Homo sapiens: one gene and its partners. The protein of the gene in region 4 purifies or fractionates together with the protein of the main gene of each other region. This does not show direct contact. Each region holds a gene or a part of one and is shown on either strand. Other genes may lie near its edges.

The links.
Region 1: the proteins of SMARCAD1 (region 4) and ZNF649 purify together in Homo sapiens (affinity purification with mass spectrometry, with the first as the bait; one study listed by BioGRID). This does not show direct contact.
Region 2: the proteins of SMARCAD1 (region 4) and CPSF3 purify together in Homo sapiens (affinity purification with mass spectrometry, with the first as the bait; one study listed by BioGRID). This does not show direct contact.
Region 3: the proteins of SMARCAD1 (region 4) and ZFP14 purify together in Homo sapiens (co-immunoprecipitation; one large-scale study listed by IntAct). This does not show direct contact.
Region 5: the proteins of SMARCAD1 (region 4) and RFC4 purify together in Homo sapiens (affinity purification with mass spectrometry, with the first as the bait; one study listed by BioGRID). This does not show direct contact.
Region 6: the proteins of SMARCAD1 (region 4) and BEND3 purify together in Homo sapiens (affinity purification with mass spectrometry, with the first as the bait; one study listed by BioGRID). This does not show direct contact.
Region 7: the proteins of SMARCAD1 (region 4) and ANAPC7 purify together in Homo sapiens (affinity purification with mass spectrometry, with the first as the bait; one study listed by BioGRID). This does not show direct contact.

Annotation. Positions count from the first base shown.
Region 1 is NC_000019.10:51,894,759-51,898,798, forward strand, and holds part of ZNF649 (zinc finger protein 649), read right to left. Parts: intron 2,221-4,040; coding exon 2,094-2,220; intron 1,810-2,093; coding exon 1,714-1,809; intron 1,539-1,713; exon of another isoform or gene 1,403-1,538; intron 1-1,402. UniProt on the Homo sapiens protein: Transcriptional repressor. Regulator of transcriptional factor complexes and may suppress SRE and AP-1 transcription activities mediated by growth factor signaling pathways.
Region 2 is NC_000002.12:9,444,062-9,448,101, reverse strand, and holds part of CPSF3 (cleavage and polyadenylation specificity factor subunit 3), read right to left. Parts: intron 1-4,040. UniProt on the Homo sapiens protein: Component of the cleavage and polyadenylation specificity factor (CPSF) complex that plays a key role in pre-mRNA 3'-end formation, recognizing the AAUAAA signal sequence and interacting with poly(A) polymerase and other factors to bring about cleavage and poly(A) addition.
Region 3 is NC_000019.10:36,375,964-36,380,784, forward strand, and holds the start of ZFP14 (zinc finger protein 14 homolog), read right to left. Parts: upstream 3,239-4,821; 5' UTR 3,200-3,238; intron 1-3,199. UniProt on the Homo sapiens protein: May be involved in transcriptional regulation.
Region 4 is NC_000004.12:94,210,486-94,214,525, reverse strand, and holds part of SMARCAD1 (SWI/SNF-related matrix-associated actin-dependent regulator of chromatin subfamily A containing DEAD/H box 1), read right to left. Parts: intron 1,492-4,040; exon of another isoform or gene 1,374-1,491; intron 789-1,373; exon of another isoform or gene 756-788; intron 1-755. UniProt on the Homo sapiens protein: DNA helicase that possesses intrinsic ATP-dependent nucleosome-remodeling activity and is both required for DNA repair and heterochromatin organization.
Region 5 is NC_000003.12:186,796,383-186,800,422, forward strand, and holds part of RFC4 (replication factor C subunit 4), read right to left. Parts: intron 1,233-4,040; coding exon 1,153-1,232; intron 1-1,152. UniProt on the Homo sapiens protein: Subunit of the replication factor C (RFC) complex which acts during elongation of primed DNA templates by DNA polymerases delta and epsilon, and is necessary for ATP-dependent loading of proliferating cell nuclear antigen (PCNA) onto primed DNA.
Region 6 is NC_000006.12:107,101,570-107,105,609, forward strand, and holds part of BEND3 (BEN domain-containing protein 3), read right to left. Parts: intron 1-4,040. UniProt on the Homo sapiens protein: Transcriptional repressor which associates with the NoRC (nucleolar remodeling complex) complex and plays a key role in repressing rDNA transcription.
Region 7 is NC_000012.12:110,386,315-110,390,354, reverse strand, and holds part of ANAPC7 (anaphase-promoting complex subunit 7), read left to right. Parts: intron 1-1,731; coding exon 1,732-1,843; intron 1,844-2,462; coding exon 2,463-2,616; intron 2,617-3,885; coding exon 3,886-4,028; intron 4,029-4,040. UniProt on the Homo sapiens protein: Component of the anaphase promoting complex/cyclosome (APC/C), a cell cycle-regulated E3 ubiquitin ligase that controls progression through mitosis and the G1 phase of the cell cycle.

The DNA of each region.
Region 1 (4,040 bases), on a different chromosome or scaffold from region 4:
CATTTCTGTTTCTCACTAAATTCAGTCTCTTCTACTGTGTATTATGGCTACAGTTCATCAACTCATAAAAACAGCCCCCGAGAGAGCTTCATGTAAAGACACGCCCAGGCCCCCAACTCAATTCTAACAAAACCAGACTCACAGAGCAAGAGGCCTTGGTATGGACAGTGTCATGAAAACTCCTTTAATAAAGATCTAGCCTTTAAGAAATGCTTAATAGATGGAAAAGTATGACCTCTCTTCAGCCTGGCTAATCTGTCCTTCGATGAAGAAATGCATGAATGACCAAGATGTATTTCAATCTTACATGAAGAAGAATGAAAACCAGGCCCTTGACTCCAGAGTAGCAAAGGAACCTCAAGCACCACCAAATCACACTGATGTGGTATCTATGGGAGTGGCTTGTGTGTGATTGGGATGCAAAGTAGAATGGGAATTTAGACATGGAAGATATTATTATATTGTAGTGTATTAAAAACCATTTCATGAAAAGAAAATTCAAGGTGAAAAATACATAGTGTCAGAATGTGAAAAACAAACCATAATCACATACCGATGCCTCAGTTTTTTTGTTTTTTTGTTTTTCGTTTCTTTTTGTTTTTTGAAACAGAGTCTCACTCTGTCACCCAGGCTGGAGTGAAATGGCGCGATCTCAGCTCACTGCAACCTCTGCCTCCTGGGTTCAAGTAATTCTCCTGCCTCAGCCTCCTGAGTAGCTGGGACTACAGGCACATGTCACCACGCCCGGCTAATTTTTGTATTTTTAGTAGAGATGGGGTTTCACCATGTTGGCAAAGCTGGTCTCAAACTCCTGACTTTGTGATCCGCCCGCCTCAGCCTCCCAAAGTGCTGGGATTACAGGTGTGAGCCACCATGCCCGGCCTCCTATGCCTCAGTTCTTATCTCACTTGATGAATCAGTAACTCTAGACAATGCTTATGGCACTCTTTCTCCCTCTCTCTCTTATATAAATGTATATATACATATAAATATATAAAGTATATATATAAATGTATATACACACATACACACACACATACACATATATACACACACGCATATACATATAAATGCTGTTCTAGCAAATTAATCAAACTTGAGGAGAGGGTCTTGGGAACCCCTACTTTACAGCTGGTTGGTCAGAAGCTGAGGTGACAACCTGGGACTTGCCACTGGCATCTGAAGTGGGACACAGTCTTGGACTGAGCCCTTAACCGGTGGGATCTGATGCCGTATCAGGTAGATAGGGTCAGAGCTGATTTGAAACAGACGATACCCAGCTGATGTCTGCTGGAGAATTGCCTGGGCTGTGAGAAAACAACCCCTATATATCCAGTGGCATAAATGCTGTGTTGAGTGACTATGTGACAGAGAAAAAAACAGTTTGTCGTTTTTGCCTCAGAAACACAAAATGATCCTCTGACAAGTGATGAAGAAGAATGGGAAGATGTGAAAATCCAAGCAAGAAGAACTTAGGGGAAGCAACTCAACATCTAAGAAGAAATGAATAGGGATCAGTTCCAAGAAGAGATAAAGGGGTATGTATGCTTCTCTGAATTCCTATAAGAAAAAGAGCTCTTGTATCCTAGGGGAGAAGAAGATGTGGCAGCTGTTTCTGTCTCCCTAGACACTTTCACAACTGTCATGCCTTCTCTAAATGACCAGAATGTGACTTCCGCTGCCTTCCCCTCTTGCTGGTTCTCTCTCACTTACCTGGGTGGGCTGGACTGTGGATTTCATCTTCTAGTGTCCATAGTGGTTCTCCTTGTTCCAACTTGGTGAGGGCATCAGGTTTGCCGGCTTGATACCCTGTTTGTGGGAAATGGGAGAAGACTTAGGCTCACTGAATTGCACCACGTGGCTCTGATGATAGGAGAAAGGTACATGTTAGGGACTGCATAATTTGCATGTTAGCAAATTAAAGGCTTTTTTTCTAAGACGAAGGAAGATTATGCCTCTTCCTGTGGGACCAGAGACGGGCCTGAGGATCTGCCATTTGGGAGCACAGCAGACATACCAAAGCTTCCAGAAGCTGAGAAAGCAAAGGCCACTGACTGGGTACCCTCTGAGTGACACAGGGCAGCTGTCCTCACCCACTGACACAAGGTTGCTGTAGTTCTCCAACATCACATCCCGGTACAGGTCCTTCTGAGCAGGGCTCAGGAACTGCCACTCCTCCCAGGTGAAGTCCACAGCCACATCCTCCAGGGTCAGTGATTCCTGTAATAACACAGTCCTGCTTAATATGTTTCTCTTTTATTGACATGGAAGAAATATGAAGTTGTTCGGCCCATTTTCACCACATAAGCTGCACCTGCACAGTTGTCCCTTGGTATACTCAATGGAATGGTTTCAGGATGCCCCACATATACCGAAATTGTGCATACTCATGACCTACAGTTGGCCTAGTGGAATCTGCTTATGTTACTCTGTATAAGCGAGTTTCACATCCTGAGAATACTATATTTTTGATTCAAGTTTGGATATAAGTGGACCCTTGCAGTACAAATTCATGTTCACAAATAAACTGTATTCCTAGTTTTTTAAATATACTGTGAAAGAAGCAAAGTCATAGTAAAATATTCTATATTTTATAATAACCATGCAGCCATCCATTAATCCAACAAATCATAAGTTTCTGTAATATGCAGCCATTAAATCCTCTTGCTAACATGAGAATGTCTGCAGTGTTTTTCAGCACCTACTTGCAACCCTAAACTATATGCTACAGTCATATAGTACGTGCAGAATAATCTAGCATGACCCCCTTCATGTAAACTATACCATGATATTTAGCAAAACAACAAATAAACTATGCAGTGGCCATAAAAAATAAGCCATCATACATGTAAGCATTGACATGCATAGATACATGTATATGTATACAACGCATGTATACACACACATACACACGCATGCAGACATAGATGTCCTCACAGGTAAATCCCTAGAACAGGAAGACAAGCATTTGTTAGTGACATACTAGGGAATTAGGAAAAAAAGTATACAGAGGGGGAACTTTGTTTTCACACTATGTGTACTATTTAACTTGAGTCTTTCACATTGAAAATCTATCCATGAGGCCGGGCATGATGTCTCACGCCTGTAAACCCAGCACTTTGGGAGGCAAAGGTGGGCGGATCACCCGAGGTCAGGAGTTTGAGACCAGCCTGGCTAACATGGCTAAACATGGTCTCTACTAAAAATACAAAAATTAGGTGGGCATGGTGGCACCTAGATGAAGCATGAGAATCGCTTGAACCCAGGATGCAGAGGTTGCAGTGAGCGAAGATCACGCCACTGCACTCCAGCCTGGGCAACAAAGTAAGACTGTCTCAAAAAAAAAAAAAAAAAAAACTATGAATCTGTGGTTCTTTCTGACACCAAATACACAGTGTCTTTTCCAGCAACACTTTCTCTGATGCCAACTGGGTATCCTAGAGTTCGATGCTATGCTAACACTAACCGCTGAGGGTTATCATCAGACTCTGCAGGTTTCAGGGCTCGGTCCCACAAGACTGCCCTCACATCATGTGCCACTCTGGGGTCCCCACGTTATCACACTTCTGTCCAACTTGACCACAACTGGAGGTTGCCACAACCTCCCTGCTCAGGTTCGATAATTTGCTAGAATGACTCACAGAACTCAGGAAAATGTCACACAATTACAGTTTATTATATAGGATACAAATGACAGCCAGGTAAAGAGGTACAGAAGTCAAGGTCCAAAGGGTGCCAAGCACAGGAGCCTCTGATCCCATGGAATTGCAGTGCCCCCTTCCCCCACCCCCCACTTCCACATGTGATCTCCAAACCCCATGGGGGTTTTTATGGAGCTTCTACGACGTGGGCATGATTAAATCATCAACCATGGCTGGGTGCGGTGGCTCACACCTGTAATCCCAACACTTTGGGAGGCCGAGGTGGGCAGATCATGAGGTCAAGAGATCGAGACCATCCTGGCCAAGATATTGAAACCCTGTCTCTACTAAAAAAAAAAAAAAATTAGCTGGGTGTGGTGGTTTGTACCTGTGGTTCCA
Region 2 (4,040 bases), on a different chromosome or scaffold from region 4:
TGAAATAGAGACATACTTGGAAGTTATGAAACTTTACTACTTTTAAGGACCTCCAGCCGATTCAACTTGTATACACATATTCATTCTGTTTGATCCTTATGTGGTACTATTTGAACAAAGAGTAAAGAAACTTCTTTTCTACTCCAGTCTTTGCCACTAATGAGATACACGCCTTTTCCATGTTTCACTGCTTCTATGTTCACAGTTGTAAAGGGCTGACTTCTGTAGTCTCTTCTAGTTTTAAATGCCTATGACTCTTGTACAAAACTATTGCTACCCTACTGTCTTAGAAAACACCCATGGTTCTCTTTTTTCTCTTTTTGTGAGATGGAGTCTTGCTCTGTCGCCCAGGCTGGAGGGTAGCAGTGGTGTGATCTCAGCTCACTGCAGCCTCTACCTCCTGAGTTCAAGCGATTCTCCTGCCTGAGCCTCCCGAGTAGCTGGCACTATAGGTACACGCCACTATGCCTGGCTAATTTTTTGTATTTTTAGTAGAGACGGGGTTTTACCATGTTGGTCAGGCTGGTCTCGAACTCTTGACACCCACCTTGGCCTCCCAAAGTGCTGGGATTACAGGCTTGAGCCACTGTGCCTGGCCTACCTCATATATTGATATATTTTTGGAGACAGGGTCTCACTCTGTTGCGCAGGCTGGAGTCCAGTGATGTGATCATGGCTCACTGCAGCCTCAACCTCCAGGGATCAAGCAATCCTCCTGCCTCAGCCTCCCACGTAGCTGGGACTACAGGCACACGCCACCATGCCCGGCTAATATTTGTATTTTTTGTAGAGACACGGTCTCACATATTGCCCAAGGTGGTCTTGAACTCCTGGGCTCAAGTGATCTGCCCATCTTGGCCTCCCAAAATGCTAGGATTATAGGCGTGAGCCACTGTACCTATCCTAATAAAATATTTCAGAACCAAATGGAACATTTTATTACTTTATATATTTCTTTATTTAAAGAGAGTCTTGCTCTGTTGCCCAGGTTGGAGTGCAGTGGCATAATCTTGGCTCACCGTGGCCTCAATCTCCCAGGCTTATACAATCCTCCCACCTTAGCCACCCAGGTAGCTGGGACTACAGGCATGAGCCACCATGCTTGGCTAGTTTTATTTTATTCTTGTAGAGACAAGGTCTCACTATGTTGTCTAGGCTGGTCTCAAACTTCTGGGCAGTCTTTCCACCTCAGCCTTGCAGAGTGGTACGATTACAGGCATGAGCCACTGTGCTCAGCCCCAAATGGAATATTTTAGAGGGTATTTACAACAACAGCATTAGCTACCAGTCCCTTTCCATTCACTTTTGTAACTTCTATCTTACAAGACAGATTGTTCTTTTTTTTTTGAGACAGTCTTACTCTGCCACCCAGGCTGGAGTGCAGTGTCGTGATCTTGGCTCACTGCAGCCTCTGCCTCGAGGGTTCAAGGGATTCTCATGCCTCAGCCTCCAAGTAGCTGGGATACAGGTGTGAACCACCATGCCTACCTAATTTTTATACTTTTTTTTTTTTTTTTTTTTGAGACCGAGTCTCGCTCCGTCGCCCAGGCTAGAGTCTAGTGGCGTGATCTCGGCTCACTGCAAGCTCCGCCTCCCAGGTTCACGCCATTCTCCTGCCTCGGCCTCCCGAGTAGCTGGGACTACAGGCACCTGCCACCACACCCGTCTAATTTTTTTGTATTTTTAGTAGAGACGGGGTTTCACCGTGTTAGCCAGGATGGTCTCCATCTCCTGACCTCGTGATCTGCTCGCCTTGGCCTCCCAAAATGCTGGGATTACAGGCATGAGCCACCGTGCCCTGCCTAATTTTTATACTTTTAGTAGAGATGGGGTTTCACTATGTTGGCCAGGCTGGTCTCGAACTCCTGGCCTCAAGTGATCCACCCACATCGGCCTCCCAAAGTGCTGGGACTGCAGCCCGGCCAAGATAGATTGTTCTTAGCCTCTCACATGTGGTAGATGGCTTGTGGCTGGGCATAGCCAGCACCAGCACGTGGCAGGGGCTTACTGCTTGCTGGGGAAGGGCCTGGGCCTGGCTGCCTGAACAGAATCCTGGTGCTGCTGCTTATTTAAGCTGTGTAACCTTGACCAAGTGATTTCACACCTCAGTTGTCTCATCTGCAGAACAGCTGTCGGTCATGAAGATTAAGCAAGTCAGTTCATATAAAACACATATACAGTGTCCGGCACATGGTAAATAATCAATGTTAGCTAGTATTCATTACTACCACCAACACTACTAGTATTGCAATTTTATCCTGCAGCTATACTTTTGCTGGAGCTGGTTATCACAAGAAAATGAGCATGAAGTTCAACCCAGGAACTTAAACTGTCAGCAGAAGTAGAACCAGGAGAGTGACAGGATGAAATGGGGCTGAGGATGAGGTGGTGACACCACACAAAAGAGCAATTCGGCTTTTCCTCCCTGGCTTGGAAATCTGGGGGAGTGTTCATGCACACAGACAATAAGAAACACCTGGGAGGAGCCTACTCTGTGACTAAACCCTACACACTGTGATGCTATAGACAGGAGAGTGATTTTTCTTGACCAAATAATCTGCTCATTAAGGGCCAGTGGCAAATACCTGTGAGGCCTATCATGCTAGAAAAAACTCAAAAACGAACAAAAGACTGCATGAAAAGGTGCTCAACATCATTAGTCATTAGAGAAATGAAAATAAAAACCACAACGAGATACCACTTCACATTTGCTGTAAAGTGACACAACCCGAGTGTCCACCCACAGGTGAATGGATAAACAACATGTGGTCTACATATAACGGACCATGACTTCGGCATGAAGTGCTGATACATGCCACAACATGATGAACCTTGAAAACATCATAGGCATTATGATTCCTCTTATATGAAATACCTAGAATAGTCAAATTCATAGAAACAGAAAGTAGATTTGAGATTACCAGGGTTGGCGGAAGGGAATGGGGAGTTACTGTGTAACGGTACAGAGTTTCTGCTTGGAGTGATGAAAAGCTGTGAAAATAGACAGTGGTGATGGTTGTACAACACTGTGAATATAATTAATGCCACTGGTTTGTACACTTAAAAATGGTTAAAACTGCAAATTTTATGTTAGATATTTTACCACAGTAAAACGTATTTAAAAAACAACAAGCAAGGCCAGGTGCAGTGGCTCATGCCTGTAATCCTAGCACTTTGGGAGGCCGAGGCGGGCAGATCACCTGAGGTCAGGAGTTTGAGAACAGCCTGGCCAACATGGTGAAAACCTGTCTCTACTACAAATACAAAAATTAGCTGGGCGTGGTGGCACGTGCCTGTAATCCCAGCTACCCGGAAGGCTGAGGCAGGAGAATTGCTTTAACCCAGGAGGCAGAAGCTGCAGTGAGCTGAGATTGGCGCCACTGCACTCCAGCCTAGGCAACAGAGCAAGACTTCATCCAAACAAACAAACAAACAAACAAACCAAAAAACACCCCAAACAACAAGCAAACAAACAAAACTAACAAAAGGCCATTTCTCCTGCTTTCCAATACATTTGGAAAGGGCACGTCATCTATTTTCTATGGACACATGCTTCATTAGTGTTCTTCTAATTAAAAATACACACTTTTTTCAGCTTACCCCTCCTTTCCAATTCCATCAAAATATCTAACTTATTTTTAATAAGTTACACGATACTTAAAAATATAAGTAAGTCGGCCGGGTGCAGTGGCTCGCGCCTGTAATCCCAGCACTTTGGGAGGCCGAGGCGGGTGTATCATGAAGTCAGGAGTTCAAGACCAGCCCGGCCAAGACGGTGAAACCCCATCTCTACTAAAAATACAAAAATTAGCCGGGTGTGGTGGTGGGCACCTGTAATCCCAGTTACTCAGGAGGCTGAAGCAGAGAGCTGCTTGAACCCGGGAGGCGGAGTTGCAGTCAGCCTGGGTGACAGAGCAAGACTCCGCCTCAAAAAAAAAAAAAATATATATATATATATATAATATATATATTAAGCATTTACTATGTGCCAGGCACCATATTAAGTGCTTTAGATATGTTCTTTCACTTCATCCTTACAA
Region 3 (4,821 bases), on a different chromosome or scaffold from region 4:
ATTACAGACATGAGCCACCGCGCCCGGCCAGATTTTTTTTTTTAAGTATGCATAATGATGATATTTGGTATACTGTTGTAATTACCAATATATGCTTTTATTTTTCTGCATGATATTAGACAGGTTACTTTCCAGTTCCCCATATGAAATGGTGAGAACTACAGTTTCTACCTGAAAGGATTGTTATGAGAAATAAATAAGATACTACATATAAGGCACTTAGAGTAGTAAATAAGCATTTCATAAAAGTCAGCTATATTAATAAAGATGAAGAATACTACATATGCTTCTTCCCACAATTATTTTTAAAATTCTACTCAGGCCTGTAATCCCAGCACTTTGGGAGGCCAACACAGGCGGATCACTTAGATCAGGAGTTCAAGACCAGCCTGGCCAACATAGTGAAACCCCATCTCTACTAAAAATATAAAAATTAGCCAGGCATGGTGATGCATGCCTGTAACCCCAGCTACTTGGGAGGCTGAGGTAGGAGAATGGTTTGAACCTGGGGCGGGTGGCTGCAGTGAGCCAAGATCGTGCCACCGCACTCCAGCCTGGGTGACAGAGCAAAACTCTGTCTCAAAAAAAAAGAAAAAAAAAAAATTCTTCGCAGCCCTGCTCTTGATAGGCAATCCTTCTTGATTATCAACAATTTACAAAAGGAGGGTACAAAGATAAAACAAATGTGGTAGGATACCAATTTTTGGATCTGGGTGATGAGGAAAAATATTAAATTACAACCTAACGGTAACAAATCTACTGTGCACTTATTATGTGCCAAGCATTAGCTAAGGGTTTTGCATATATTAATTCCTCTACTCAGAGCCATCCTATATAGCAGGGTCTATCATTATCCTCATTTTGCAGATGATGAAACTGTGGCACAAAGAGATTAAATAAATTGCCCCAAGCTCAGGCAGCTTTAAGTGGCAGGTTGAGGACTAGAACCCCCCTACTTTAGCTCCATAACCCATACGACTGTCACTGTACTAAACTGCATCTCATGAGACCTGATAAATACGTGGCCTGAAACACTCATGCTGTCAAAAACTTCAAGCCACTTTCCAAATTTCTACTGTCTTCCCTTCCCTTCTAATAACCCCTTCCCTTGTTAACACAGACCTCTCCACTAAAAACCCCATCGTATTGTCACTCCTTAAAAGCCTCAAAAGCAGAAAAGATCCTGTCGCCAATCAAACCACCTCCTTTCCCTGCTTTTGAACTCAGGGCGGTGGGGATCAAAGAGACCTAGTGGGTAATTCCATCTAAACTGTAAACTCCTCAACTAATCACCATCGAATGAAAGTTCTACGTGGTGGCTCACGCCTGTAATCTCAACACTTTGGGAGGCTGAGGTGGAAGAATTCCTTGACTCCAGGAGTTCAAGATCAGCCTGTGCAACATAAGGAGACCTCATTTCTACAAAAAAATTTAAAAATTGCGCGTGGGACCACGTGCCTGTGGTCTCAGCTACTCAAGAGGCTGAGGTGGAAGGATCGCTTGAGCCAGGGAGGTCCAGGCTGCAGGGAGCGAGATCACTTCACTGCACTCCAGCCTGAGGGACAGAGTGAGACCCTGTCTCTAAAAAAAAAAAAAAAACTTAAGTAACAAAATAAAGCTCTGCAGTTAGCTTCTCTTCAGGAGGTTTACTTCCAGACCATCCAAATGATTAGAAAGAGGCAGCTCATAAGAGAAACTAAATTACTGCCAAATGCTCATGTCAATACCTACTGGAGGCCGGGTGCGGTGGCTCATCCCTGTAGTTCTAGCTACTTGGCAGGCTGAAGCAGGAGAATCCTGCTTGAACCCGGGAGGCGGAGGTTTCAGTGAGCACATCGTGCCACTGCACTCCAGCCTGGGTAACAGACCCAGACTCCATCTCAAAAAATACAAAAAAAAACAAAACAAAACAAACCTACTGGAAAGGGGTAGGAATTGGAATCTACCTTCATCACCCCATCATTCACTGGGAAGGAAGGCCAAAGCACCAGGTCAGTGGACAGGACATTTCAGGGGTTAAAGTCTAACTAGCTGAAGATTAACTGGAACAAGCCCGCATAGTCTGACAAAATCATATCTATTGACTGGCAGAAAGGGAGAAAATTCCACAGGAAGGGTTGGAATAGAATGGACGAGAGAGACGAGAAAAGCTCTTTCGTAAACGGTTGAGTTCCAGCTGAAAGATTCTAAGGAGGATCTAATGACAGCTGCAATCTGGAATGGCTGCTGTTTCCGAGGTGAGATTAGGAGAGGCAGGGATTAATGAGATATTGAATGCAATCATGAGTGTAATCAAGAGGGTATCCCCAGTAATAAAATGAAAACAGCAAAGCAAGTCTAGAACATCACTGGTAAGAAAACTGTAATCTCTCAAAGAGGGAGTCATTATGCCATTTTACAACTACTGCACCACCTGGGGAGAAATCATGTTTTCTATTAATTTTGCAACTGGCTTTATCTGTCTCTTCCTTCCTAGCCTGATTAATGACAGAGCTGCTTCATTGTTCAGTCCGAGCTGATTTTCATTCCACAGAAGAGGAAAGCAAATGCCCCCACGCCCAGAAAAAATAAAAATTACACTTCATGGAACAAAACGGAAACACAAACTCATCTGGATGTTGACTTGTCTATATGCAACAGCAATCATTTCCTCCTCTCCCCGCTGCCTTCCTAAAGAACAGCAGGATTGGGAAAGGAGACGGGAATCTTGAGACCGCGGGCCTTTCCTGGAGCCGGCCTTGGCTGAGCAGGACACACCCCCGCTAGCGCACTTGCTCCCTCCGTCTACTGCGCGCAAAACCCGATGGAAATAACAGGGAGCCTGGAATAAAGCTGACCCTTTCCCGTATCAGAGCGAAAGGCCAGGTACACGAAGACGGGGCTGGGATCTGTCTCCGAGTTCCCCGCAGTTTCCATGGGAGGGAGCTCGGGTAAAGCTGTGCAATCTGCAGTTCTTCAGACTGCGTCTTTTTGTTTGGGGGCCTTCATTCACTCCGGGGTTCCTGTATCTAACTCGGAGCCATTCCGGGCCGCTGGACCTGGGCGGCTCTGAAGCGAGAAGGCAGAGGACGCAACAGGGCACCCGGCGCCCAGTCAGCGCCACAAACTCCACAGCTACTGCCTCCTGGCTCACACTGAGGTCTGCGCCGCCCCCGCGCCACCCCCGCGCCCATTGCCTCGGTGCAAGCGACCAACTCACCTCTCGGAGCCGACACCAGCAGCGAAGCCGGAAAGAACTGCGAGCGGAGGCCTGTGGGAAATGTAGTCCGCCGATGGGAGGGACTGGTTCCAGCCCCAACGGGCTGCGCGGAGTGCGCATGCGCGGGGGCCGGAGCCCCGGGTGCGCTCGGGGCGGGAAGGCCCTCCGCGCTGCGTGGGGCTGAGGCGAGCTCGGGCTTGCGTTTGCTTTTGTCGCTGAGGAAGACTTTTATTTGTTTATTTTCTTGAGACAGGGTCTTACTCTGTCGCCCAGGCTGGAGTGCAGTGGCGTGATTAGAGCTCACTGCAGCCGCGACCTCCCGGGCTCAAGCGACCCTCCCACCCGAGCCTCCAGAGTAGCTGGGACTGCAGGCGCGCGCCACCACGCCCAACTCATTTTTTAAGTTTTTATAGAGACCAGATCTCCCTATGTTACCCAAGCCGGTGTCGAACTCCTGGGCTTAAAAGATCCTCCCGCCTGAGCCTCCCAAAGTGCTGGGACTACAGGCGTGAGCCACCAGGCTCAGCCGCGGAGGATTTAGAAAGAAGTTTTGGCACCAGCAGATGCCTAATATGTGTACTAAACACCTACCAGTTACTCACTGCATACACCCAAGCAAGGTGTGGGCACACATCAGGCATGCAATGAAAATACTCTCAAAGCCCACCAGAACCTGGAGCAGGACGTAAACCTAGAAAGGTCGCTCGTGCTCACTGCCCTCTCCCTTTCTCCCACTCTGTCTCTGTCTCTGTGTGTGTGTGTGTGTGTGTGTGTGTGTGTGTGTGTGTGTGTGTCTCGTATCTCCTGCAGTTGTGAATGTATTGTTCTACTAAAAATACAAAAAATTAGCCGGGCGTGGTCGCGCGCGCCTGTAATCCCAGCTACTCAGGAGGCTGAGGCAGGAAAATCGCTTGAACCCGGGAAGCGGAGGTTGCATTGAGCTGAGATCCGCCATTGCACCCCAGCTTGGGCAACAAGAGCGAAACTCCGTTTCAAAAGAAAAAGACTAACTGGAGAGGTCTGTCTCCAATGAGACTGAATTTGTCCTGTCCTGCGTTCCTTCAGGAAAGAAATGGGATAAGCCCACCAGGGACCACCCTGAGGCATCTTCTGTATCCCAAATTCTTTGATATATTAGTTAATACATGAAAGAATTTGTTCTTTCCTTAAGAATATAAAACTTTAGAAGATATTTGAAAATGCCTCGGCAATCTGGTTTCATTTTGCAAACAATAGGATATGCATGAAATAGGAGATAAATGAAAAATCTGAGCTACTTTATAACTACTAAGAAGGTGGCCAGACGCGGTGGCTGACGCCTATAATCCCATCACTTTCGGGGGGCCGAGGCGGGTGGATCACCTGAGGTCAGGGGTTTGAGACCAGCCTGGCCAACATGGTGAAACCCCGTCTCTACTAAAAATACAAAAAAATTTAGCTGGGCATGGTGACGCACACCTGTAGTCCCAGCTACTCGGGAGGCTGAGGCAGAAGAATCGCTTGAACCAGGGAGACGGAGGTTGCAGTGAGCCAAGATCGTGCAGCTGCACTCCAGCCTGGGCGACAGAGCAAGACGCCGTATCAAAACAAAAACGAAAACAAAACAAAACAAAAAAAACTAC
Region 4 (4,040 bases):
AGGAGGCCGAGGCGGGCAGATCTCAAGTCAGGAGATTGAGACCATCCTGGCTAATACGGTGAAACCGGGTCTCTACTAAAAATACAAAAAAAAAAAATTAGCCCGGCGTGGTGGCGGGCACCTGTAGTCCCAGCTACTCAGGAGGCTGAAGCAGAAGAATGGCATGAACCCGAGAGCAGAGATTGCAGTGAGTTGAGATTGCGCCACTGCACTCCAGCCTGGGTGACAGAGTGAAACTGTCTCAAAAAAAAAAAAAAAAACAAAAGAACGCTCAATTTTCAATAATCCTGAAACATATTTTCTTGACATTACTTCCCAATCAGGTTACCTATTTCTCTCTTTCCTTTCCTGAATGAATAATCTCTATCTCATCACCATTCTACTGAAACTGTTAAAGGTTAGTAGTTACTTTTAATTCCAAGGAAACTGGTCACTGATCAGTCCCCACTCAACTTGACTTCTCTACAGGATTTGTTACTAGACAACTAAATACCAAACTAGGTATTTAGGTATCCAGGACACTATCATTTTCTATGACTATTCTAGTCATCCTTCAAATTTTTCATTGGTTTTCCTGCCCATTGTCAAATGATGTTTTTTATTGTACACCCTGCTTAGGACATTGATGAGTCCCAAGTTCTAGGGTTTAGACCACTCTCTGAGCTCTAATATTCAACCATCTACTACCTTGGTACTAAAATAGGATGGGTAATGCAAACACAACATAATTTTTAGTATCTTTCTCCTAAACTCACCTCTTAATTCAGTCCATGGTGTCAATCCTCCAGCTGTCCAAGCAAGGAACATTTGAGTTATCTGTAAATCCTCCACATTCAACTGATCACCTAATATCATCAAATGCGTATCATTTACAACTCCCCTCAGTTGCCTCCTCTGTCATCTCTACAGTCATTTCCCTACATTGAGGCTTCAATGAATACAACAGCTTCACTAATAGCATTTCCATAATGAAATGCTCTATGATGTGTACCAAATAAGATCTACCGTCCCTGACACAGGATATAAAGGCCCCTCACAACCCAATGGTTTACACTTCTATCTTTTCAGTTTCATCTATATTGTCTAAAACCTCCTGTTCTATAATCTGCCCCCAACCCTCCACACACATATTAGACTCTTGGAGGCAACATATATTTTCAACTCTCTCATCATTTGTTCACCCAGTAAACAATGATTTCATTGTTTAGAGTCCACTCCAAAGGTCATATCTCTGTGACTTTTTGTGATCCTCCCCTGAAGAATGGATAATTCAATCATTTGTGAATTACAGATAGTGATTCTACTTTGCTTAGTATTTTGCCCTATTATATGGTTTTATCACACCATACTATTTTAACTATATATTTACATACCATTTTCTCCTGGTGCTCTTGGAGGATCAGGCTTCACTCATTTTTATTCTTTATTCATAAAATATAGTAGGATCTCTCTTCCCTTTCACCTGCCATTATTTCAATCCCTCCAAACTCACTGTACTCCCAAAAGTCAAAGAAAAAAAGGAGAAATAATGTGTAAATAACAATCATTGACAACTTTGGGCACCGAGAAGAGTAAAATAAATCAGGGGGCAGAGGTTAAGTGTATGCCCTCAAATCCAAAGGCTGGCTGGGATTTAGAGGGGCATTAGGGAGGATGTCCTGTACCAAAAGAAGCTTCAAGCAACCATGGCCAAAGAACACCTGATGGCTAAAGGGACTATTTTAAGGTCCTATTTTAAAATAAAGGTGTGGTGGCTCATGTCTGTAATCCCAGCACTTTGGGAGGCCAAGGCAGGCAGATAGCCTGAAGTCAGGAGTTTGAGACTAGCCTGGCTAACATGGTGAAACCCTGTCTCTACTAAAAATACAAAAATTAGCCGGCTGTGGTGGTGTGCACCTGTAGTCTCAGCTACTTGGGAGGCTGAGGCAGGAGAATTGCTTGAACCCAGGAGGCAGAGGTTGCAGTGAGCCGAGATTGTGCCACTGCACTCCAGCCTAGGTAACAGAGCAAGACTCCATCTCAAAAAAATAATAATAAATAAATATGTATAGGGCTGGGCGTGGTGGCTCATGCCTATAATCCTAGCACTTTCAGAGGCCAAGGCACGTGGATCACTTGACGTCAGGAGTTTGACACTAGCCTGGTCAACATAGCGAAATGCCGTCTCTACAGAAAATACAAAAATTAGCCGGGCATGGTGGCATGAGCCTGTAGTCGCAGCTCCTCGGGAGGCTGAGGTATGAGAATCACTTGAACCCAGGAGGTAGAGGTTGCAGTGAGCCAAGATTCTGCCACTGCACTCTAGCCTGGGCCACACAGTGAGATTGTCTAAAAACAAATAAATAATAAATAAATTTTAAAAAATGTATAAAGTACTAATAATGCCCACTCATCATGCAATAATATTTACTTCAATGCACTTATTGAGGGCCTACGACAAGCCAGTCGTTGCCCTGAACAATGGAGATAAATAGGTGAACACAACAGATAAGGTCCTGCTCTCATGAATCATATGTTCTAACAAGGGAGTCACAACTATATAATGTAATGTTAGCTAGTGATACACAACTACATAATGAAAGGTTAGCTAGTGATAAATACTATGAAGAAAAATAACAGTAAAGCTGGGGTAGGGTGGGCTGGGGTGGGTGGCTATTTCACAGGGTGATCAAGGAAGGTCTTCTTAAAAAGGTGACATTTTACTGAGATTTAATGAAACAAAGCATCTGAGTCATATGCAAATATCAGCAGGAAGAGTCTTCCAGGCAAAAAAGCAAATTGGAAGAAGCAAAGATGGGACCTTGCTTGAAAGATTCAAGAAACAATGTGGTGGTGGCACAGTAACTGAAGGAGGGTCATAGGAAATGAAGTCAACTCACTAGATAAAATAACAGGATTAGTCAAAAAGAGTGATTACAGGTAATTTTGACTACATACAATTTCTGTCCTGTAAGCTGACTTAGTTTGACCTGACACTTTACTGTAAATAAACTAACGCAGCATTATCCCACAATGGGAGTATGAAAAGTTACCACATGATAAAGAAGTAAGGTCAATAGTCACATCCTATTTATAATTCACCAATTTTCATCTCCAGTCCTGACCTTAAAATCTAACTTCAGTATCTTGTCCTCTCCAGAGATCCAACACTCAATTCTGAATCCCCACTTCCTCAGCAATCCCTAGACCCCAGGCTAAATTAGCACTTGGGGGCAGGACCTTTGATTTTTATTCTTATTTATTTATTTATTTTGACATGGAGTTTTGCTCTTGTTGCCCAGGCTGGAGTGCAATGGCACAATCTCGGCTCACTGCAACCTCCACCTCCAGGGTTCAAGTGATTCTCCTGCTTCAGCCTCCCGAGTAGCTGGGATTACAGGCATGTACCACCATGCCCAGCTAATTTTATATTTTTAGTAGAAACGGGGTTTCTCCATGTTGGTCAGGCTGGTCTTGAACTTCCAACCTCAGCTGATCAGCCCGCCTCAGCCTCCCAAAGTGCTGGGATTACAGGGGTGATCCACTGTGCCCAGCCAGACCTTCGATTCTTATTTGAATTCTTAAAGACATTTACCTTTTTTTTTTTTTTTTTTTTTGAGATACAGTCTCTGTCCCCCAGGCTGGAGTGCAGTGGTGTGATCTAGGCTCACTGCAACCTCTGCCTCCCAGGTTCAAGCAATTCTTGTGCCTCAGCCTCCTGAGCAGCAGGGATTACAGGCACGCTCCACCATGCCTGGCTAATTTTTGTATTTTTAGTAGAGACGGGGTTTCACTATGTTGGCCAGGCTGGTCTTGTGATCTCAGGTGATTTGCCCACCTTTGCATCCCAAAGTGCTGGGATTACAGGCTTCAGCCACCGCGCATAAAAATCTTACCATTCATCTTATCTCATTCCCATCAGGGATCTAAACCCTGCCCTTCATTACTTTGAAACCTCTCATATCTCTTTCTTCTCCATTTCTACCGCTATCATTAAGCTCAATTACAGGAGTTGCCTAAATGTTTTCTTTCCCTTCAATCCCTACCCTCAATCAGTGTGT
Region 5 (4,040 bases), on a different chromosome or scaffold from region 4:
ATTGCTGTCAAATAAAATATTAGGCACATAGCAGCTTCTCCCTTTGTCTTTTACATTTTGACATAACTAATAATCCTTACACATTTGGTGATTTCAGTGGCGTCTTTTTTTTTTTGAGACGGAGTCTCGCTCTGTCACCCAGGCTGGAGTGCAGTGGCGTGATCTCGGCTCACTGCAACCTCTGCCTCCCAGGTTCAAGTGATTCTCCTGCCTCAGCCTGCCGAGTAGCTGGGACTACAGGTGCATGCCACCATGCCTGGCAAATTTTTGTATTTTTAGTAGAGATGGGGTTTCACCATGTTGGCCAGGCTGGTTTCGAACTCCTCACCCCAGGTGATCCACCTGCCTCGGCCTCCCAAAGTGCTGGGATTACAGATGTGAGCCACCACACCCAGCCTATTTTCATATGTAGGATTTCAGATATTTCTATCAGTTGTATGTCTGATATTAATTCTGGATAAACTCAAAACAGCCTTTGTTATGTTGGTGCATGTTTCATGTATATCAGACCCAGCCCACTACACATCTTTTAACTCTAGGTAAAGGGCTCCTCTAGAATGGCTGGTTAAGCCAAGATGGTCAATCTAGGAAGAGGAACATAAGAAGGTGACTCACAGGAAGATTTTCTGGTGTACCTGGAATCACACTACATCAACCATCACTTGTGCTCAGGAGACCTGAGGCAAGGAGCTGGACTGGCCACTCCAGAGTCAGAGCCTAGGAAGTCCAGAGCAGGACTCAAGAATGGATGGTGCAAATAGTGCCATCAGAAACAGCAGATTCTATCATGTAGCCACACAGATGTGAACACAATCATTAAGAGGGTGATAAAACTATCAGCACAACTGGACATTAAGTTGGGCCCTCTGGACTCCAAAGTTATAATGGAAAATTTAAAGAAAGTGATGGAAAAAATCATAGGCTCCCCACACTTGAACAAGATTCACAATGAAGGTCACAAAAGACGCAGGCAAGCTGATTTCTTCAGGGGAGTGAGGGAGGAACAAAATGGCTCATGGGATTTTTAAAAATCAGAAATAGAAAACTATCCTACAGAAAACGAAACGCAAATTTTTAGAGGAAAAAAAGCAATATCAGAGAATTTTGGTGTCAAATCTTTAAAAAAAGAAAAACAGACTGATTTCAACGTACCCAAAGAGTTCTCTAGCTGCTGCCAAAATAGTGGATGTTTTTCCAGTTCCAGGTGGTCCGTAAAACAAGAGATTAGGAAGCTGTAGAAATTAAATTTTATTTTTAATAAATGGTATTCTGGCACAAATAGATGAAAAGGAAGATCGAAAAAAATGTCTGTGGAATAGTGCAATGACTTCTCTAATAGGGCACGTAATTTCTAAGTATAAAGTTTTCTTAATATAACTGATATCATAGTACTGACAGATTTAAATCCTGCTTTTTCATATACTACCACTTTTTTCCCCAAGTGTCTTTTTAATCTCTTAAGCTGAACCAATATTTATGCTTGCTCTATAGCTAATCCACTTAGGTGAAATTTTCAAAGCTGGAATGAGAAACCTTTTATTTCTAAAGGGAATCTCAGTTTCCTATCCCACCTCTATGCTCAAGATTAGGTAAGATTTTATATTACACAAAATGTCAGCTGCTTCAAAGGGGAAGCAGACCAAAAGAGTAATGGGATTTGGCCAAAACTGAGGAAAAAGGACTAAAAAAGACATAATTAGGGCTTTGGATGAGCAGAAGTACCAAGAACAGAAATATTAACAAAAAATCCAAAACTAGATATATATTAAGTACTAGGCACTGCTCCACATCATGATTATGCACTCTGTAAGGATGCTTGCATGTATCAGGGAGAATTCATTAGAAGAGGAAAGGATAAAATTAAATCACTAGCTACCTTCTTTTATACCTTGTATCTAGCTAGTTTGGCTCCTATCAAGCAGTCGACTGATCCGTGGTGAAAATTAATAAGTCAACTAAATTCTAATGAGCTCTGTTATGATACTGTGCAATCTTCAGTATGTCCTGTCACATAAGGAAATCAGTGTACACAGGAAACTAGGCATTAGAGTTTGTTTCCACTCTTGCCTAACCCTCCCTCTTCCTGTCCATTCATTCTTCACCTAAATCAGATACCACTCTGCTTGCTACTTAAAACTATTCCACTTAGAAAAACAAAAACAAACCAAAAAACCCTCAGCTTTTTACCATGGCCTAAAGGACTTCCATGATCTGCCTACCACCTCCTTCACCTTCCAGGCTCTAGCTTACAATGGCTTCTAACAGCTTGGCACTTTCTGGCCCGAACATATGTTGCTCCCATGACCTGGAGTCTGATCCTCTTCTTTCTGCCTGGCCAACTCCTAATGCATTACAAATCAGAAACCATTCAGTCTAAAGTAGGTCTCCTCTCCTATTCTCTCATTAGTGTTTGTTGCATTTTGCATTGGTTTATTGTTATTTCACTGTGGGGCTTAATTGTAAAATGCCTGTCTACTTCATTAAAAGACCAAGAACCTTATTTGTTCTATTCACATCTGTATTCTAGCATCTACTACAGTAGTCAATGTTGGCCAAATGAATGAATAAACCAATACATAGACAAATATGTTAATTAGAAGACTATTACTGTTACATTCATAACATATAGCTTACAGAACAAACTATGAGATTCATAACTTAAAAACCTCCCAGGCTTCTTAGTAATTAAGGTCTACAACTATTATTTTGATCTGTGCATCCCTTAACAATGTAACGATTCATCCAGGTTAACTATCAGATACAATAATTTAAATTCTTTGAAACAGGGTAAAATTATTAAACCTTAATTATACACTAGTCTAATATATGTAGTACATTCAAGAACTGTATGTGGAATACCAGTTCTTAAAATCAATTTCTGAAAAAATTATCTTCTTATAATTCTTTAAAACCTTTCAAAATAAATTGAATGAATTGTTTTCCTTTACTCTTTTGAATTAAAAAAACTATTTCACCTCTTTACAAAACTTAGTCTGAAAAGGTGCACAAAATATTAAACTGAAGTTCTTACTTCAGCCTCATAAATTACGTGGCATAAAGTCAAGAACTAGATCTTAGGCTGGGCATGATGGCTCATGCCTGTAATCCCAGCATTTTAGGTGGCCAAAGCGGGCAGGTCACTTGACATGGCTAAACACCATCTCTACTAAAAATACAAAAATGAGCTGTGTGTGGTGGTGCATGCCTGTAGTCCCAGCTACTTGGGAGGCTGAGGTGGGAGGATCACTTGAGCCTGGGAGGCGGAGGTTGCAGTGAGCTGGTATCACGCCACTGCACTCCAGCCTGCGTGACAGAGCAAGACTCTGTCTCAATTACAAAAAAAAACAAAAAAACAAAAGAACTGGATCTTAATCTCACTACATTTGCTGAAGATACTAGTAATTAAATTAGATATTGTCCTGCAATCTGTGTAATTACTATGCAACTGCAATTAAAATGGTATATACTGTTACCAAGATATGCAAGCAGAATATACCAAAAAATAAAATGCTATACTATTATAAAATTAAAAGGTATAAGAGTATTTGTGTTATTTATTTTTTATTACTTATTTATTTATTTATTTTTGAGACCAGAGTCTCACTCTGTCACCCAGGCTGGAGTACAGTGGCACAATCTTGGCTCACTGCAACCCCTCCGCCTCCCAGGTTCAAATGATTCTCCCGCTTTAGCCTCCTGAGTAGCTGGGACTACAGGTGTGTGCCACCACGCCTGGCTACTTTTTCTAATTTTTGGTAGAGATGGGGTTTCACCATGTTGGCCAGGCTGGTCTTGAACTCCTGACCTCAAGTGATCTTCCCATCTCAGCCTCCCGAAACGCTAGGATTACAGGCGTGAGCCACTGTGGCCGGCCAAAAAGGTATAAGAGTATGCGAGTCAAATCAAAACACATACTGGTAAAGAAAAAGATTCTAAATAGTTTTATAAATTTAACTTCTTTCAAAATGTGTACTGTAGTAATATAATTTCAGCAAGGGAATGATGGCAGCAAAACCCAAAAGAACTTCTAATTAAAAGCA
Region 6 (4,040 bases), on a different chromosome or scaffold from region 4:
CTCCTACCTGAAAAAACATTACACACAGGGTGATATTGACAGAAAACAAATAATAAGTCAACTTCAAGGGTCCGAGAACTATTTTACCAGAGTCAAATTTTAGCAACTCCTTCCACTGTATTTCAAGGAACTACACCTCACTTTGGATCGCCATCATCTGAGCTGGGTGTCTCTGAGTGGCTAGAAGGGCTGGACAATGCCAGGCAGAAATTCAAGACCGGATTCCCAGCCTGGTAGGAGGCCTCTCAAGGAAACACACTGCAGGTCACCTGAATGCCCCTGCCCTTGGAAACTGCCATGGTCACATAACCCATTCCTGCCAATCAAGGGGAGTTCTGAGATGCAGAACAGATGGGGCAAAACGATGGCTGTCAGAGGCGGACATACTTTACAAAACAAATTACATTTGGCAGAGAAAAGGCAGAGAGGGAGGAGACAGCGGTTGGTTTATTTGGGGAGGAAAAGGGTCATGGTGAAAGAAAAATTGCAAAGAGTCAAAGATTCTGGTAAGTGGAAAGCACTAAAAGGATGGGCAAATACTAGAACAAAACAAAACAGGCGTCGATGAGAGAACACAGCAGACAGGGCCATGGGTGGTGAGAAGGGCAGTCTATTTATCTGCCATTATATTCGCCCAACCATGTGTCTCTGGCAGGCCCATCACATAGGGAGCAGTGCAGGGCTGGAGTCCAGGCTGCCACATGGAGCCTGCCGGGAATGTGGCTTGGTGAGCAGAAAACCTATTTTCTGATTTTTTATTTTTCCTTGTTTCCAGTGGGGTTGGAAGGAGGCTATTTTCTGAACCACCACCATGTGACCCTACAGCAGGCAATTTGGCCTCTGAATTTTGAGCCCCTATAAAGTGATGAAGGAAGAGCACACATCTCAGCCACCTGCAGTGGGCAGAAACCCCAGAGGGCTCATGCAGCTGAGGTGGGAGGAAGGGGTGCTGGTGCGGCTGCCTGGGCATTCAAGACACCGAGTGCTTGTGCTTTGGAAAACACTTCCGTGTCCATTTATAGACTAGTGACAGATGCTAGGTTAGCCCAGAAGTAGCCCAGAACACAGCATGGTGGGCCCCTTCCCTCCGGGCCAGCAAATCAGCTTCACTCATTAAGAAGCTGGGGAATCTCCCATTTGCAAGGCCTGGAAACCTCGCGCCTGCCCCTGGCTTGCGCAGTGGGGAGTGAGGTGAGCATCCCCTGTAACATCTGCAGCCCACCAACTTCACACCAGGCACTGGGCTGGCCACTGCATGTGTGCCTGTGCCTCACCCTGAGCTATTTTAGTTCCAATTTCAACAAATAGAGAAACCCAGGACAGGTAACTCCTCCAGTGTCACATCACTGAGTGGCAGAACCTGGCTTCAAATCGAGTCTTTCTGTGCCTTCCCTCAGCCAGCCAGGGAGGAAATAATAGAGTCTTCATTCTTTTGTTAAGCTTCTTCTGATGAACCATGGGCCTGTTTCCAAATTTGAGTCCCTCTGTCCAACAGCACCAGGAAACCACATCTCCTTCTGCCTCCATTAGCACTCTGGAAAGTCAGTCTGCTCCGTGCGTAGAAACAGACTCCACCCCACAATACAGAAAAGCTTCTACAAGAGAGATGTGTAGGCCACTCCCTGCATCCCCAGCTGGCGCAGGGACAGCACACCAACAATGTCACAGCTGGGCAGAAAGGGGATGGGGAGCACACTGCTACCTCCATTTCCTGGTCACCTGCCCAGATGAGGGTCACAAGCTCTGCTCCTCCTGGGTGGACACCCAGCACCCAGATGCCTAGCATGCCACAGACATTCCTCTCGCCTACCTGACTATAGGCTACGTAGGCGCTGCCACAACTACCCAACCACCACAGCACCCACCTCCTAAAGGCTGCTGTGAGCATTCCCTTTGCCTCCTGGACTCTGGAGAACTTCTCATTCTGACATTCTCTCATTTTCAAAATGTTCTCATGCCTCCCACCATAAACCTCAAATTATGGGACAGTCAACACATCCACACGTTCCCCAAAATCAACTTTCTCCCCAAGGGATGTCTGTTCTATGTCCCTCAGACAGCTGAGCTAAGCCTAGGAAAAAAGAAAAAGAAAAAAGAGGCCAGGCACGGTGGCACACGCCTGTAATCCCAGGACTTTGGGAGGCCAAGGCGGGCGGATCACCTGAGGATGGGAGTTGGAGACCAGCCTGACCAACATGCAGAAACCCCATCTCTACTAAAAATACAAAATTAGCTGGGCATGGTGGCGCGTGCCTGTAATCCCAGCTACTCAGGAGGCTGAGGCAGGAGAATCGCTTGAATCCGGGAGGCGGAGGTTGTGAGGAGCCGAGATCGCGCCATTCAACGCCAGGCTAGGCAACAAGAGCGAAACTCCGTCTCAAAAAAAAAAAAAAGAAAGAAAGAAAGAAAGAAAGAAAGAAAAAACAAAGAAAAAAGAGAAGGCCGGGCGTGGTAGCTCACACCTGTAACCCCAGCACTTTGGAGGCGGGCAGATCACGAGGTCAGGAGATGGAGACCATCCTGGCTAACACGGTGAAACCCCATCTCTACTAAAAAAAATACAAAAAAAAATTAGCCAGGCGTGGTGGCGGGCGCCCATAGTCCCAGCTACTCGGGAGGCTGAGGCAGGAGAATGGCATGAACCCAGGAGGCAGAGCCTGCAGTGAGCCGAGATCGCGCCACTGCACTCCAGCCTGGGCGACAGAGCGAGACTCCGTCTCAAAAAAAAAAAAAAAAAAAGGAAGAACCACATCACAAAGAGATAGGCTGGAAAGAGTTACACACTACAGGACACTTCATCTTTTTAGTGTTCATTTTAAGAGGGAAGATACATAATGTGGCTTTTCCCCATTTTTTACCAGGTAATATAGTCATGCCTTAGTATCCTCAGGGGGTTGGTTCCAAGACTCCCAGTGACACCCAAATCCACAGATGTTCAAGTCCCTGATAAAAAATAGCATAATATTTGCATGTAACCTGTGTACATCCTCCTGTATACTTTAAATCACCTCCAGATTACTTATAATAATACAATGTAAGTGGTATATAAATAGTGGTTATAGTGTATAGTTTTTTCGTGGTGTAATTTTTTACTGGTTTTTCTTTTGGATTTTTTTTTTTTTTAAGATGGGTTCTGTCACCCAGGCTGCAGTGCAGTGGTATGATCGTGTCTTACTGCAGCCTTAACCTCCTGGACTCAAGCCATCCTCCCACCTCAGCCTCCCAAGCAGCTGGGACCACAGGCATGCGCCACCACATACAGCTAGTTTTTTATTTTGTAGAGACGGGCCTCCCTACGTTGCCCAAGCTGGTCTCAAACTCTGGGGCTCAAGCAATCCACCCACCTCGACCTCCCAAAGTGCTGGGATTAGAGGTGTGAGCCACTGTGTCCAGCTCCAGCTTCTGGAATATTTTCTACCTGCAGTTGGATGAACCTGCAGATGTGGCGGGGCTGACTGTACATGCACACAGAACAAAAATCAGCAAGCATGAAAGGATATTTGGTTAAAAAGTCCACTGTTGGCTGGGCGCAGTGGCTCACACCCGTAATCCCAGCATTTTGGGAGGCCAAGCCAGGTGGATCACGAGGTCAAGAGATGGAGCCCATCCTGGCCAACGTGGTGAAACCCCATCTCTACTAAAAATACAAAAATTAGCTGGGCGTGGAGGCACCCACCTGTAGTCCCAGCTACTCCGGAGGCTGAGGCAGGAGAATCGCTTGAACCTGGGAGACAGAGGTTGCAGTGAGCCGAGATCGCGCCACTGCACTCCAGTCTGGGAGACAGAGAAAGACTCTGTCTCAAAAAAGAAAAAAAAAAAAAAAAAGAACTGGGATGGGAGATGACATGGTCTTCTAAGCAGGGGGCGGTTGATCAGGATCACTGGCCTTTTCCCTGTCCAGCCCATAGATTTCCAAAAGGACATTCTCTAGTGAACCCATAGGCGGCTGGGAGTGGCCCGGGGTACCTTTCTATCAAGTTCTTTGAATAGTCAGTTGCTGTGGAGAGAGCAGACAGACCAGGTCTTTTGGGACAGCAGCG
Region 7 (4,040 bases), on a different chromosome or scaffold from region 4:
CGCCTGTAATCCCAGCACTTTGGGAGGCCGAGGTGGTTGGATCACCTGAGGTCAGGAGTTCAAGACCAGCCTGGCCAACATGGTGAAACACCATCTCTACTTAAAATACAAAAAAAAAATTAGCTGGGCGTGGTGGCGGGTGCCTGTAATCCCAGCTACTCAGGAGGCTGAGGCAGGAGAATCACTTGAACCCAGGAGGCAGAGGTTGCAGTGAGCTGAGATCGTGCCATCGCACTCTAGCCTGGGTGACAAGCGTGAAACTCCGTCTCAAAAAAAAAAATCTAATTTTAAATTGGAATATTGTGTTTATCTGTGTACTATTAGGAAGGTCTTTTATCACTTGCCTATAACTTCTACATTCTTAGGAACTTTTAGATTTTCTGGCTTTTTTTTTGTTTTTGTGGGTTTTTTTTGTTGTTTTTTGAGACGGAGTCTCGCTCTGTCTCCCAGTCTGGAGTGCAGTGGCACGATCTCGGCTCACTGCAAGCTCTGCCTTCCGGGTTCACGTCATTCTCCTTCCTCAGCCTCCTGAGTAGCTGGGACTACAGGCGCCCGCCACCACGCCCAGCTAATTTTTTGTATTTTTTAGTAGAGACGGGGTTTCACTGTGTTAGCCGGGATGGTCTCAATCTCCTGACCTCGTAATCCACCCACCTCGGCCTCCCAAAGTGCTGGGATTACAGGCATGAGCCACTGCGCCCGGCCAGAACTTTTAGATTTTCTCATTTCCCAGTTGCATGTTAGGTAGGATTATTTTAATTTAGCTTTACAAAGTTACATATTTAAATTACGCTAAAATGCAGCTGTCTGCACTCACTGGATTTAAATAGTGTAGCTGATTTTTGTAGCATTACTTTAGTGAGTTAGTACCTACGGGCCAAAGCCTTAAGTGTTAGAAAGGCTAGAGTCTAGCCACAAGTCGAATTGTCAAAGAAAAGCCAAGTATTATACTTCTTTATCTGTCTTTCTGTATCATTTCCTTATTAGGAAAAACTGAGCTGATCCTTCTTAACTAGCTATGTCAAGAGTTTCTCACTTTCTTATGTGAGATAGTTCATCTTCTGTTTTAAGATCAAGAAAGAATCAAGTTAACTAGCGTTCTCTACCATTTCTTAAATGAATGTTATTCCAGTTTCCAGAGGGCAGCGTCTTTTGTTCAGATATTACTGGGCCTTGTGGGAAGGTAATGTGACTTTCCTCTTAGGGAAGGCAGGAGCTAGGGAAAGGAAGGGTAGTAATTTCTTTTCTTTTCTTTTTTTTTTTTTTTTTTTTTAAGATGGAGTCTCACTCTGTAGCCCAGGCTGGAGTGCAGTGGCGTGATGTCGGTTCACTGCAAGCTCCGCCTCCCGGTTTCACACCATTCTCCTGCCTCAGCCTCCCGAGTAGCTGGGACTACAGGCTCCCGCCACCACGCCCAGCTAATTTTTTTGTATTTTTTAGTAGAGACGGGGTTTCACTGTGTTAGCCGGGATGGTCTCAATCTCCTGACCTCGTGATCCACCCACCTCGGCCTCCCAAAGTGCTGGGATTACAGGCGTGAGCCACTGCACCTGGCCAATTTCTTCTTTCTTTTGAAGAATGGGGTCAGTCTGCCTTTATTTGCACAGGGTTGTGGGTAGATTTTCCAGTAAAAAGTAAATAACTGGTAATGAAAATTAGGACTTTTTCATGGTGAGAGATTTTCTTTGCAATATACGCTTATTTTGCTATCTGTTATTTGTGTTTGTACAGATAAACATGATGCTGGCAAACCTGTACAAGAAGGCTGGTCAGGAGCGCCCTTCAGTCACCAGCTATAAGGAGGTGCTGAGGCAGTGCCCATTAGCCCTTGATGCCATTCTAGGTAGAGATATTTCCTGCCTGTTTTCATGGCATGTTTACTGTCAAAGATAGTAGTTCTCAATCTTGCCTGTACATTAGAATAACTTTATTTTTTTTAAAAGTTCCCCTGAAGAGAGTGATTTAGTAGGATTCCTGTTGTCACATATTCAATCAAGAAATACTTAATTATGGTTTTTGGCCGGGCATGGTGGCTTACACCTGTAATTCTAGCACCTTGGGAGGCTGAGGTGGGTGGATTGCCTGAGCTCAGCAGGTCGAGACCAGCCTGGGCAACATGGCACAACCCCGTCTCTACTAAAAATACAAAAATTAGCCAGGCATGGTGGCGCGTGCCTGTAGTCCCAGCTTCTCGGAAGGCTGGGGCATGAGTATCGCTTGAACCCAGGAGGCAGAGGTTGCAGTGAGCTGAGATTGTGCCACTGCATTCCAGCCCAGGGGGACAGAACAAGACACTGTCTCAAAAAGAAAAGAAATACTAAATTATGGTTTTTCTCTCATGCATCGCTCAGAATAGGGAAGCAGTTGCCTTTTAGCCAAGGGAAGATGTAGCCCGTTGCTCCTTGCATGTGGAAGAGAGATATCGTGCCTTACTTTCTTTCTTCTGCTTTCTGTTGGTTTAGGCTTGTTGTCCCTTTCTGTAAAAGGGGCAGAGGTGGCATCCATGACAATGAATGTGATCCAAACCGTGCCTAACTTGGACTGGCTCTCTGTGTGGATCAAAGCGTATGCTTTTGTGCACACTGGTGACAACTCAAGAGCAATCAGTACCATCTGGTGAGAGCCACAAAGTTAATTCAGTGTTCTTGAGGCCCTTTGCTTGTCTGGAAGTCTGATGTATCTGAAGTAGCAAAAAGAAAAATGAGATGCTTTGCTGTTGGTGCTGCAGCCAGTCTCTGGGATGTGTTAGTCTTTTATACTGAATGGTCCCAAATGTAATCATGTAATCATCTCTGTTGGAGACCTGTAAAAATAGAAATCTGACTGAGTTTAGCTCTGTGCCTGCACAGGTAGTAACCCTTGCAAAGCAAAGCAGGCTACCTTGGTGTGTCATTTTTTTTTTTTTTTTTGAGACAAGGTCGGTCTCTCTCTCTCTCTCTCTCTCTCTCTCTCTCTCTCTCTCTCTCTCTCTGTCTCTCTCTCTCTCTGTCTCTCTCTCTCTGTCTCTCTCTCTCTCTGCCTCTCTCTCTCTCTCTGTCTCTCTGTCTCTCTCTCTCTCTCTCTCTCTGTCTCTCTCTCTCTCTCTCTCTCTCTCTCTCTGTCTCTCTGTCTCTCTGTCTCTCTCTCTCTCTCTCTCTCTCCCAGGCTAGAGTGCAGTGGCGCAGTCACAGCTCAGTGTAGCCTTGACCTGTCAATCTCCCGGGCTCAAACCATCCTCCTGCTCAGCCTCCTGAGTATCTGGGACTACAGGCGCATGCCACCACACCCAGCTAATTTTTGTATGTTTTTGTAGAGATGGGATTTCACCATGTTGCCCAAGCTGGTCTTGAATTCCTGGGCTCAAGTGATTCTCCCACGTGGGCCTCCCAAAGTGCTGGGATTATAGACGTGAGCCACCATGCCTGGCCTTGGTGTATCATTCTTCAGCCTGGAAGAAAATCATTTTGCACTCACCAGAAGCTTGGTTTATTGCAGTGTCTAACCTAGCTTGCCTGCTTAGGACTAGGGATTTTCTTTATATTCAGATAAAGTTCAAGGACAAGAAGAGACTTGGGCTTGTGTTATGCAAAGTCGTTTACTTGAGTAATAAATAGGTGTCACTTGTGAATGACATTACCTTTAACACCATGTAGCGTATGTTGTGTTCTGAAGAACTGCAACCACAGAGTTATTTGTTGGTACTGAGAGACTTCTGCTTTATTCTTTGTTTTTGCTATCCTGTCCTATATAACTTTTTTTAAAGTCATAAGCTTAAAGTTTTTTATTACGAAGAATTTTATATTTATGCAAAAGAAAATAGTATCTGTATGACCAATCATCCAGATTCAGCAACTAAGAGGATTTATAATAGATTTAAAGGTTCAATGTTTAATAAATATCTTAAAGTTCACTAGAGAAAAAATCCTTATTGCGAGATAACGTGGACCTATTGGGAAGCTTGGCAGATCTGTACTTCAGAGCTGGAGACAATAAAAACTCTGTCCTCAAGTTTGAACAGGCACAGATGTTGGATCCTTATCTGATAAAAGGTAAGTAATTCT